Homo sapiens: one gene and its partners. The protein of the gene in region 2 interacts with the protein of the main gene of each other region in a pairwise test. Each region holds a gene or a part of one and is shown on either strand. Other genes may lie near its edges.

Region 1 (3,500 bases), on a different chromosome or scaffold from region 2:
GATATACCTGCAATAGCCAGAAGAAAAGTAGATTACATTTTATCAGTGGACATATAACAATCAAATCCTAAAAGAGACTTAGATAATCTCACATGCATGACATCTGTTCTCTACAGGAGTTAAACTGGATTCTAATGGAAATATTCTAGGGGGAATTCTAAAATTTTAGTTGTTTTGAAACTGTAAACATGTTAAGTGGTGGGTGTAATATATAATGCATAATATATTAAATTCACATATGTATGAACATCTGTGTAAGTAAATTTATTAGAAAACTATGCAGAATATTCAATATCACATCCACACCTAAAATTTTTTTAAGGTTAATATTTCTAAAGTGCTTAAGACTATATGAAGTATGCAGTGTTTTATAAGAGTTTGTTAAATAAATTAAGTACTACGTCTAACCCTGAGATTTTCTTTTCAAATCAAAAGTCTGTACTAATTATTTTATCTCCAGTTTTTGGAGTGAATGATGAAATATAGAAGGGGAAACAATCTACTTTTCTTCCGGATAATCTGAAGCCATTCCTTTTGCAATCTTTATTTGAGAACTATTTCTGTCAAAAAAATCACTCCACTATTTCACCAAACTAGAGTATGCTATAAACAAGGATCTTGCTGCTAGTTATTGCTAGAAGTGAGCCCAAAACCCAGGTGTCACAGAGACTCCCATTCTAATACGCTTTTTGTCATACTGTTTCCTCTACATGGTAAAATGTTTTCTTTTTATACAACAGCTACTTAAAAATAAATTTTATTTAAATACCAAGGTTAAGTTCCAGTCACAATACTACATAAATTTTAAAAAGATCACAAATGGAATCGACAAAAGAGCAAAGGTCATAATAATGCTAAAAAGTTAAACTGCTGCTGACTTAGAAAAAAGGCACAATTATTATGCAAAATAGAAAATGTATTTAAAAGTTACCATCCACAGAAATATTGAATTTAATGTTGTCTCCATTATCTGAAGTTAAACATTATGTTGTTAAAGTTATAAAATTTCAGATGAGTAACAAAAAAGACAAAAGATGTATCACCTGAAAAACTGTAGACTGAAAGTTGCCATTTTATAGAATAAAATGTTTGTCTTGTTTTTGTTTCTTTCAGAGGCTATGTGGCCCCTCCCACTTGTTCTATGTCCTGCCTGGTTATTTCTTGACGTTCTCTTTTCAACCGCATCCATCATGCATCTCTGTGCCATTTCAGTGGATCGTTACATAGCCATCAAAAAGCCAATCCAGGCCAATCAATATAACTCACGGGCTACAGCATTCATCAAGATTACAGTGGTGTGGTTAATTTCAATAGGTATGTAGAGAATGCCAGAGTGTGGGTGGTATACAAAATCTTTGGTTCCACTTGGCTAGGAGAATACCAGGTCTGGTAGGCAATGAAACTCAGCATGAGAGGTCAAGCCAGCCTACTGATACATTAACATAAGCTCCTTATGTCACTGCATTTATCATACGCCTTCTAAAACATACTGTTGGTAAAAAGTGTGACAAGTAACAAAACTCATGTCCTCAGAAAGAACCATCTGCACAGTGTTTATTGAGATTTCTTTCTGCTTAGATTTCTATATGCAGAAAGGTTAAGTTTGAGAACAGTCTTCATATTTCCCAACAGATAATTATGGTCTAGCTAGCATTTGGAATCCTGTAATTACATTAAAATAACAAGAAATGCACCTTAAATCACATTTTAAAAGATTAATAAGAGAAAAAACAAAAATAACAACTCAAACATTTTGTGGGCAGGTATCAAAGAACACAAATTCATCTTGGAAGCCAACATTTCTGTACATATGTGTACAGATTAAAGGCAGTTAAGTGTCTGCTTCAGTGGGTTTTTTTGGTTTGTTTTTTCTTTTTTGGAGACAGGGTCTTGCTCTGTCACCCAGGCTAGAGTGCAATGGCACAATCATGGTTCACTGCTGCCTCGACTTCCCGGGCTCAAGCGATCCTCCCACCTCAGCCTCCCAGGTAGCTGGGACTACAGACACACCCCCCATGCCTGGCTAATTTTTGTATTTTTGGTAGAGGTGGGGTTTTGTCATGTTGCCCAGGCTGGTCTCAAACTCTTGAGCTCTGGCGATCCCCCTGCCCCAGCCTCCCAAAGTGCTGGGATTACAGGCGTGAGTCACTGCACTTAAGTGTTTTGAGTATGTTTAATTCAAAGTTTTAAGAGAGATGCAAAGAAAACATACCGATGTTCAGAAATTATGTATAAAAGAAATCCTTTTTCTTCTAAATCGTCTTACGGCCCTGTACTCATCTATAATACTCAAAGCTATACTTCTTATCATGAAGTATGCGTAAATCATTCAAAACTCTTATATGTTAGTATCAGAAAAACAAATAGATTTGCAAAAATTACAATGGTTTGACCAGCAGATTCTCTTCTTCCTTGTAAAAATATTTCAAAGAGGCAAAAAATTAAGAGACCTGGAATACTTAAATTACTCCTCCCTAATCTGAGTAGGGGCACTGGGGCAAAAACAGCAAGAAAGCAAAACAATGAGATTGACCTTCATATTCCTGAAATGATGATATAAGGGCTTGATCTCTTTGAAAAAGTTTGGAGGTAAAAGCAAGCTGTGTTACTCCTCTGGTATGGGAAGAAAACAGGGTCAAGAAAAAGTCTATTCAGAATGAAGAGATTTAAAAACAGTGAGAAAAGGCTAGATGAGGGGGCAGATGCCGACAGAGCAGAACCAGCCCCCCAAAAGCAGCTACAGAAAGGGAATGGGAGACAATGGGTGAAAATTAAAATTTGAAGTGCAGAGGAGGAAAACTATAATAAAGTCATTTATGCCAGATGACTCACATTTGGTAAGCTCACTGCAATGAGGGAGAGGGCAAGGGAGAGTGTGAGGTATGTGTATATTGGGGTGGGGTGGGAGAGTTGGACAGAGAAAGGGAAAAAAAGTTGAAGAAATGGATCCTTAAGAATAATTAAAATATTTGAAACTGTGAAATGTGATCAAGCTAATAAGGTAAGCAGCCTGCTGGTATAAATGGCATCTAGATTAAGGCTGGATACCATCAATTTATAAATTGACCACATTTTTATTGAGTGTTTATAATGTGCTAGGTACTAAGAATACACAGATGATCAAGAAAAAGAATCTTTGCATTCAAGAAAGGCGGACATATAAACAAATTACACTAACACAAAGTGATGAGTGATGCAGGAGAAAAAAGATTAAAAGGAAGACTCATGATATATAGATTTAGAAATCCACTTCTTCCTTTTGTAGGTAAGAAAAAAGAAACCTAGAGGTTTTAATCAGTTGGCTTAAGAACTCTTACAGCTTTTCAGCACCAAGGCCAAAATCAACGCTCTTTCACTTCATTGCACTTTGTCTTGTAGAACCGATCACAAATTAATAACTTTGAAAAAATGAAAATGCAGATGACAATAAGCTCAGTTCTGAAATTCTACAAAATGCTGAAGAGAGCTCACTCTCTTCTTTTGGATTTACAGTTATTCTA
Region 2 (4,145 bases):
CCAGCCCCATCACAGTGCCACGGCCCATGTTCTCTCCCTGAAGCTGCTCCATTAGCTTTCAGACTGAGAATCTTAAAAGCTGTGTGGGCCGGGCAAGATGGCTCACGTCTGTAATCCCAGCATCCCAGCACTTTGGGAGGCCGAGGCGGGCAGATTACGAGGTCAGGATTTCAAGACCAGCCTGACCAATATGGTGAAACCCCGTCTCTACTAACAATACAAAAATTAACCAGGCATGGTGGTGCGCGCCTGTAGTCCCAGCTACTCGGGAGCCTGAGGCAGGAGAATTGCTTGAACACGGGAGATGGAGGTTGCAGTGAGCCAAGATCGCGCCACTGCACTACAGCCTGGGCGACAGAGCGAGACTCTGTTTCAAAGAAAAGAAAAAAAGCTGTGTGACCCTGAGGATTCTACCATTTACTGAACAAGCTCCCACTGCCAGGTTACATGATAATTTAACATGTATGTTTTCATTTAATCCCTATGACATAGATTTTATTATTATTTTCATTTTACTGACCAGAAAACTGAGGTTCAGAGATGTAAGCTATTTGCCTACGGTCCCAAAGCCAATAGTTGATGCGTATGGATGTGAACTGAGGTTAGCTCCAGGCTCAAGGTCTCTGCTAATACTGTCCTTAGTAAGGTTTCTCTGAAGAGCCTCTTTACTCATAGGCTGATTAGCAAAGGGTTCCTAAATATGCTTAAGAATCAATAACCATTAAAAATCCCTCACCCTACAAGAAACTCCCCATCAAAAAACTGGATCAGTGAAATGAACAGGCAATACACAGAAATGGAAGTACCCGTAAGAAAAATAGTTTACTACCCTAGTAATCAAAGAAAAACAAAATTACACGGGTGTATTCCTTTTGGCTTATCAGATTGGAAAATATTTTTCTAAAAAGAAAAATGTAATTATCTTGTAATGACTACACTAAAAATCTAGGGCATAATTGACTTAATTTACTCCAAATGTGTTGCTATTGCGTCCATAGCACGGACTTGCCCATTTCAACTCAATATATGTTACGCTTGGGGTAGTTTATTACAATGAGCAATAAACATTCTCATAATCGCCAAGACAAGCCAAGTGCAAAACAGGAAGGGCGAAGACAGAGGGCAGCAGGTGGTCCCTCTCGCTCGCGACTCCGGGAACGCCAAGCCTCAGCCCTTGGGAACCTGGGGCGAGGCGCCTGGGTCTCGGCCAGGGGGCGCGCCCGAGGACGCCGAAGTAGGGCGCGTGTGGGGACCACAACTCCCAGGCGCCCGCGCGCCGCCTCGCCCGGACCACGTGATCCGTGCGGCCAGGGTAGCTATCGCGGCGGCGGCGGCGGCGGCGGTTGAACTGACTCGGAGCGAGGAGACCCGAGCGAGCAGACGCGGCCCTGGCGCCCGCCCTGCGCACTCACCATGGCGGTAAGGGCCGGGCGCTACGGTGAAGAGGGTGGGCGGTTGGGGCGGGGTCTCCTGGAGCTGCCATCTCGGCACCCCGAATCCTCGCTGCCGCTGGCCCGGGGCTGGTGAAGGGTGTGTTGGCAGCATTGCCAACAGCTGGAACAGGGTTGGGGGACGCGGCAGGTATAGGTTGCGGTGGCTCTGTGGTTTTCCTCTTTATTTGTCCCTCCTGCTGGGAGGCAGTCCGGCTAGGCGAGCAGTTACCGAGCGCCCGCGGTGGCGCGGCTTGAGAGTGGGGGCGCGGTGGCTGAAGACAGCTGGGTCCGGGGCCCCCGGCCCCGGACCTCTGGCCGGCGCCCCAGGGCGGAGAGCAGCGCCTTGGGAGATTCCAGGAAGGCTTCCACGAAAGGGAAACCCCCGGCGCATTTCAGCCCGCAGCCCCGCGCGCACACCGAGCGCACATCCCCGGCCCTGCTCTTGTCAAGTTTGTAGCCTGATTCTTCGGGGAATAAAACAGAACCAGCTACTTTCCAGCTTCCCTACACTTTCAGTCAGAAAACAGCGTTTCAGACAAGCTGTTTTTCTTGGTAGGGTTCACCTGGGCTGGAGAGAACGACAGCTTGCAAGACTCGTTCGTCTTTGAAGAAGTCATATCATTTTCTTCATCCCATGAAGAATGTCATAGAATTTAAGATACAGGAAGCTCAGCCTGGGCAACATAGCTAGACCCCGTCTCTACAAAAATTAGCCACAAGTGGTGGCAGGCGCCTGTAATCCCAGCTACTCGGAGGCTGAGGCAGGATGAGGAGGATTGCTTGAGCCCAGAAGTTCCAGGCTGCAGTGAGCCATGACCTTCGGCCTGGGCAACAGAACAAGACGTCCTCAAACAAACAAAACAAAAAAAAAAAGATATAGGAAGTGTATGTAGGCCATTTAGTGAAATGATCAGCCGTCCTTTAAAAAGGGAAATAGATGGAAAGCACTTGCAAAAGTTCCCCAGCCAGTCAGCCTAGCAACTGGGACCTTCATCTCCTTCCCAACCCTTGTTTACAAATAAGGAAGCTTTTCTCAAAGTGTAAGTAACCCCAAATGAAGAAATATAGAAGAAAACAAGTTCCAGGGATTGCTCCCTCCTTCACCACAGCCCCACCCTGAAAAAAGCACAAATCAGTTAAACTTTCAGAGGCCAAGATTCATCCCAAGTAGGAAAACAAGATTGGGGCCCTGCCCCTTGCCTATCTGACCACAAAGCCCTTTAATTGAAAACTGTAGCCCAGATCGCTTCTCTCAAGTCAGGGTGTGCTGACTTCCATCTTTTCCTCTAGCAAAAAGGCAAAAGTAGAAAGGGTTGAGTGACAGGTGAGTCTTCGTCCCTCTGGGGCTTCGGACTCCGTGGGTGTTTCCAGCTCTGAACAAACCATACAGTTCATCTTCCCAGCTATCTCCTGCTTCTCTGGCTTCAGAACCATCCTAGCCAACTGCTCTCTGGCCAGGGCAGGTGTCTCTCAGGCGGCTTGGTCCCCAGCACCCCCAGGGAGCCTCCACTGTGCCTCCCTTTCTCTGACCTACAACCTGTTGTAATTATTTGCTCACTTAAATGTCCCCCCTCATAGACAGGTAGCTCCCTAAGGGCCAAAGACTTGTCCCATTCATCTCTGTATCGCCAGGGTCTGCACAGACCTAGCACAACAAAAAGAAATCTTTCAAATTACTCTTACTGTTCTGTGGGTGTTCAGGTCTATGGCAAAACATGTCTGGGCTGTTTTGGGCTCCTAAGATAACTGGCCCAGGCCCAAGGATGATAGAAGGAAACCAGTTATGGCAACTCCCTGACTGATTAATTAGCCACTAGGGACATTCCATTCATACCATCTGCTTTACCAAATGGACTCAGAGAAGGGGTGATGGGTGTCACCCCTACCTCTACCTGGCAGAGATGGTGCTAGAGGCTTCTGCTGAGGATGAGGCCATCTCCGGTGTAAATGGAGTTTCACAGTATTGTTTGTACCTGTTTGGTTTTGTATATCAATCTTGCGTAAACATTTTGCTGTGTCAAAATGTTTTTTTTTTTTTTGAAAGCCTAACAGGAGAGATCTCTGAGTAGTAAGACTCAAAATGATTTTTTACTTTCTTTTCGGTACTGTGTCAGCTTTTTACATTGAGCTAGTGCCATTGGGGGTGGGGGGTAAAAGCTATTCTTATTTTTAAACTCTTCAACATTTTTTAAAGTCTTCAACATGATCTTTATCATGTTGTGATGTGACCGCCTAGATTTCCATTTTGAAGCTCTCATATAATTTACTTGACCAGTCCCTACTGGTTGACAGGAGACCATCATGGTTCCTATGATTTCTCAAAGTGTGACCCCCAACAAACACCTGTCCTAGAAACACCTGTCCCAGAAACACCCAGTACACTAAGGTTTGAGAACCAGTACAGGCTTTCCAGAAAACTCTCTGGCTCTGGGTACCTGATTGCCGAGTGACCATGGGGAGATAAGTGGGCTTTTATGTACCTTCCTTGTTAAAGAGGTTAATAATAGTAGGCACCTGCGGAGATGTCACAGGGAGTGACACATAATAAATGGAAGGTGAACGTGGTACAGGCACATGCAGTCCCTCAGAAGACACAGAGCTGTGTGGCTGTTCTGTCCAATCAGATGCTTTCACATTTCTTTCTCTGTCCTGCAGCTCCACGGTCTCCAGTGAGCCCAGTCCCTGGGTAGGCGCAGGCAGGGGTTGGTGACA
Region 3 (4,052 bases), on a different chromosome or scaffold from region 2:
CAGTCATCACCATCACCACCATGATCACTGCCATCATCACCACCACCATCACCACCATAATCCCCCCCAACTATTACAACCATTAACTTATTTAACAAAAATTTATTAATCACCAACGATTTTCCCAGCCCTTTCCAGCACCATTTCAGGTGCTTGGATACACTCATACCTTATTAGCATCCCTCCTGTCCCCCCGTCACCATTTTCGGTCTCCATTGCTAGGCAGCAGTGTGGACTTGGAAGCCTTTTGATATGTTCTTACAGATTCTGGAGCCCTCAGAAACCTCTGGCAACTGTAGGGTCAGCATTTGAGTCTGTGAGGGGTCATGGAGGGGACTCAAAAGCAAGGGGAGCAGACTCTTTCCCTTAGGGCTCTAAACCTTTGCTCCTGTGCAGAATCCGGGGTGTGTTCTGGTAGCCTACATGCCCTGACTCCTCTAAAGTAGACCTGTGTTTAAGGCTTGGAATCCTTCTGTGTGTGTCAGAGTCACTTGAGGAGCTGGTTAAGACGTTTGACCCCAGGCCCTACCCCCTGAGACTGACTCATGAGTCTCAGGTTGGGTCCAGGAGCTATCACTTACCAAGCCCCCATGGGAACTCTGATGTTAAGGGACTCAGGGCCACTGTAGCTTGTGGTGGCCAAGAGGAGCCCCTTGCCCTTTGCTGCCTGGTCCAGCCAGCATGGCCAAGTGAAGCCTTTCTTCTCCCTCTACTCCGCAGGCACACCAAAATGAAGACAGCCACCAATATTTACATCTTTAACCTGGCCCTGGCCGACACTCTGGTCCTGCTGACGCTGCCCTTCCAGGGCACGGACATCCTCCTGGGCTTCTGGCCGTTTGGGAATGCGCTGTGCAAGACAGTCATTGCCATTGACTACTACAACATGTTCACCAGCACCTTCACCCTAACTGCCATGAGTGTGGATCGCTATGTAGCCATCTGCCACCCCATCCGTGCCCTCGACGTCCGCACGTCCAGCAAAGCCCAGGCTGTCAATGTGGCCATCTGGGCCCTGGCCTCTGTTGTCGGTGTTCCCGTTGCCATCATGGGCTCGGCACAGGTCGAGGATGAAGGTCAGTGGGGTGTCCCCTCCTCCCCTCACCAGGCTCCCTGGCTCCCGGGTGGCTCCTCTGGGCCCACGTGCCCTCCACGTCTCCTGGGCCCACTCTGACCCCGTTTCTCTCCCTGCAGAGATCGAGTGCCTGGTGGAGATCCCTACCCCTCAGGATTACTGGGGCCCGGTGTTTGCCATCTGCATCTTCCTCTTCTCCTTCATCGTCCCCGTGCTCGTCATCTCTGTCTGCTACAGCCTCATGATCCGGCGGCTCCGTGGAGTCCGCCTGCTCTCGGGCTCCCGAGAGAAGGACCGGAACCTGCGGCGCATCACTCGGCTGGTGCTGGTGGTAGTGGCTGTGTTCGTGGGCTGCTGGACGCCTGTCCAGGTCTTCGTGCTGGCCCAAGGGCTGGGGGTTCAGCCGAGCAGCGAGACTGCCGTGGCCATTCTGCGCTTCTGCACGGCCCTGGGCTACGTCAACAGCTGCCTCAACCCCATCCTCTACGCCTTCCTGGATGAGAACTTCAAGGCCTGCTTCCGCAAGTTCTGCTGTGCATCTGCCCTGCGCCGGGACGTGCAGGTGTCTGACCGCGTGCGCAGCATTGCCAAGGACGTGGCCCTGGCCTGCAAGACCTCTGAGACGGTACCGCGGCCCGCATGACTAGGCGTGGACCTGCCCATGGTGCCTGTCAGCCCGCAGAGCCCATCTACGCCCAACACAGAGCTCACACAGGTCACTGCTCTCTAGGCGGACACACCCTGGGCCCTGAGCATCCAGAGCCTGGGATGGGCTTTTCCCTGTGGGCCAGGGATGCTCGGTCCCAGAGGAGGACCTAGTGACATCATGGGACAGGTCAAAGCATTAGGGCCACCTCCATGGCCCCAGACAGACTAAAGCTGCCCTCCTGGTGCAGGGCCGAGGGGACACAAGGACCTACCTGGAAGCAGCTGACATGCTGGTGGACGGCCGTGACTGGAGCCCGTGCCCCTCCCTCCCCGTGCTTCATGTGACTCTTGGCCTCTCTGCTGCTGCGTTGGCAGAACCCTGGGTGGGCAGGCACCCGGAGGAGGAGCAGCAGCTGTGTCATCCTGTGCCCCCCATGTGCTGTGTGCTGTTTGCATGGCAGGGCTCCAGCTGCCTTCAGCCCTGTGACGTCTCCTCAGGGCAGCTGGACAGGCTTGGCACTGCCCGGGAAGTGCAGCAGGCAGCTTTTCTTTGGGGTGGGACTTGCCCTGAGCTTGGAGCTGCCACCTGGAGGACTTGCCTGTTCCGACTCCACCTGTGCAGCCGGGGCCACCCCAGGAGAAAGTGTCCAGGTGGGGGCTGGCAGTCCCTGGCTGCAGACCCCGAGCTGGCCCTGGGCCAGCCGCACCTCTGAAGGTTTTCTGTGTGCTGCACGGTGCAGGCCTCATCCCTGACTGCAGCTTGACTCTGGGCCCAACCCCCATTTCCCTTCAGGAGACCAGCGAGAGGCCCTGGCCCATTCCCTCCAGCGGTGCAATGAACTATCATGCTGTGGACCGTCAACCCAGCCCTGCTTCTCAGTGTGGGGCAGGTGTCTCAGGACGAAGGCGCCGCGTGACCACATGGGCAGCTCTGTTCACAAAGTGGAGGCCTCGTTTTCCTGGTCTTGACTGCTCTGTTTGGGTGGGAGAAGATTCTCTGGGGGTCCCCACATCCTCCCAAGGCTCCCCTCACAGCCTCTCCTTTGCTTGAAGCCAGAGGTCAGTGGCCGTGCTGTGTTGCGGGGGAAGCTGTGTGGAAGGAGAAGCTGGTGGCCACAGCAGAGTCCTGCTCTGGGGACGCCTGCTTCATTTACAAGCCTCAAGATGGCTCTGTGTAGGGCCTGAGCTTGCTGCCCAACGGGAGGATGGCTTCACAGCAGAGCCAGCATGAGGGGTGGGGCCTGGCAGGGCTTGCTTGAGCCAAACTGCAAAGGCTGTGGTGGCTGTGAGGACACTGCGGGGGTTGGGGGGGGGGCGTCTGTACCTCAGGGGATGCCCCGCTGTGGTCACCCAGAGAATCACCCTTCCTGGTCTACAGATGGAAGCTGCAGGTTGGTGACTTTGCAAATGCACTTCCTACAGATGAACTATTAAAAGACCTGCAACATTGAAAAAACTCATTTTTTCCACCAAAACCTTGGCCAGGTAACCTACCTTAGGCACCTGCAAAGAACAGGAAGTGATGGCTGTCTCGCAACAGAGCCTGGGCTGCTCCTCCTGCTCTGGGGAGTCTAGGCCGTGGGGACTGTTCTGGGGAGGCTCATGCTGTCTCCATGACGTCTGTGGCAGGAGTCCCTGAGGACGGGAGCTGCCTAGCTACAGTTTTCTTGCCAAGGCGAGGTGTTTTGTGAATCTGTGCTGATGTAATGTGCACCTTCACGTATTTATGCATGTGGCAAGCGTTACTTCCTGTGCACGTAGCCAGCCCTGGGTCTGTCTCTGGGGTAATGAAAAAGGACCCTAATAAACACCTGCTCACTGGCTGGGTATTCTTTGTAACCAGTGTTTCTGGCTCCTGCCACCTGGGGATTTGCTTCTGGAGTGACTTTTCTGGGATTGGCACGTGGGTGGGAGGAGGCTATGGGTTTAGGCTGAATTCTTGTACCTGTCCTGTGCTGCTCAACAGGCTGGGCTCTGCCCTCAGTGAAACGTCCCCCAGGAGGCTGCAACCCTGGGGAGAGTTGAAGCCAGTTAATGGTGTGTTGGCCGGGCTGTTACCTTTTCTTCAGCACACACGGTTTCTCTCTAAACAACCGATGGCTGCACCTCTCCCCTGCCCCCTGGAAAGAGAGGTTTCCTGAGGATACAGTGGGAGGGTGCTGCTCCCACCCAGGTTGCAGGGTTTTCTTACCCCCATTTCATCTCAGAAGAACCCCTGCTCCTGCTCATTTCCCCTTCCTTGAGCAGATCTGAGGGGAGTTTTGGTGAAGGATGAGCAGACGGCCTCCTCTAGGGCTGGGTACACTCTTGCCATGGACATCTGCCTCCT

Evidence for each region. Proteins that work in one complex are often made in the same cells at the same time.
Region 1: the proteins of SLC31A2 (region 2) and HTR2B interact in a two-hybrid assay, tested with the Homo sapiens proteins (one large-scale study listed by BioGRID and IntAct).
Region 3: the proteins of SLC31A2 (region 2) and OPRL1 interact in a two-hybrid assay, tested with the Homo sapiens proteins (one large-scale study listed by BioGRID and IntAct).

The regions. Positions count from the first base shown.
Region 1 is NC_000002.12:231,111,543-231,115,042, reverse strand, and holds part of HTR2B (5-hydroxytryptamine receptor 2B), read left to right. Parts: intron 1-1,113; coding exon 1,114-1,314; intron 1,315-3,500. UniProt on the Homo sapiens protein: G-protein coupled receptor for 5-hydroxytryptamine (serotonin). Also functions as a receptor for various ergot alkaloid derivatives and psychoactive substances.
Region 2 is NC_000009.12:113,149,662-113,153,806, forward strand, and holds the start of SLC31A2 (protein SLC31A2), read left to right. Parts: upstream 1-1,345; 5' UTR 1,346-1,413; coding exon 1,414-1,419; intron 1,420-4,145. UniProt on the Homo sapiens protein: Does not function as a copper(1+) importer in vivo. However, in vitro functions as a low-affinity copper(1+) importer.
Region 3 is NC_000020.11:64,097,082-64,101,133, forward strand, and holds the end of OPRL1 (nociceptin receptor), read left to right. Parts: intron 1-720; coding exon 721-1,076; intron 1,077-1,194; coding exon 1,195-1,718; coding exon of another isoform or gene 1,719-1,805; 3' UTR 1,806-3,552; downstream 3,553-4,052.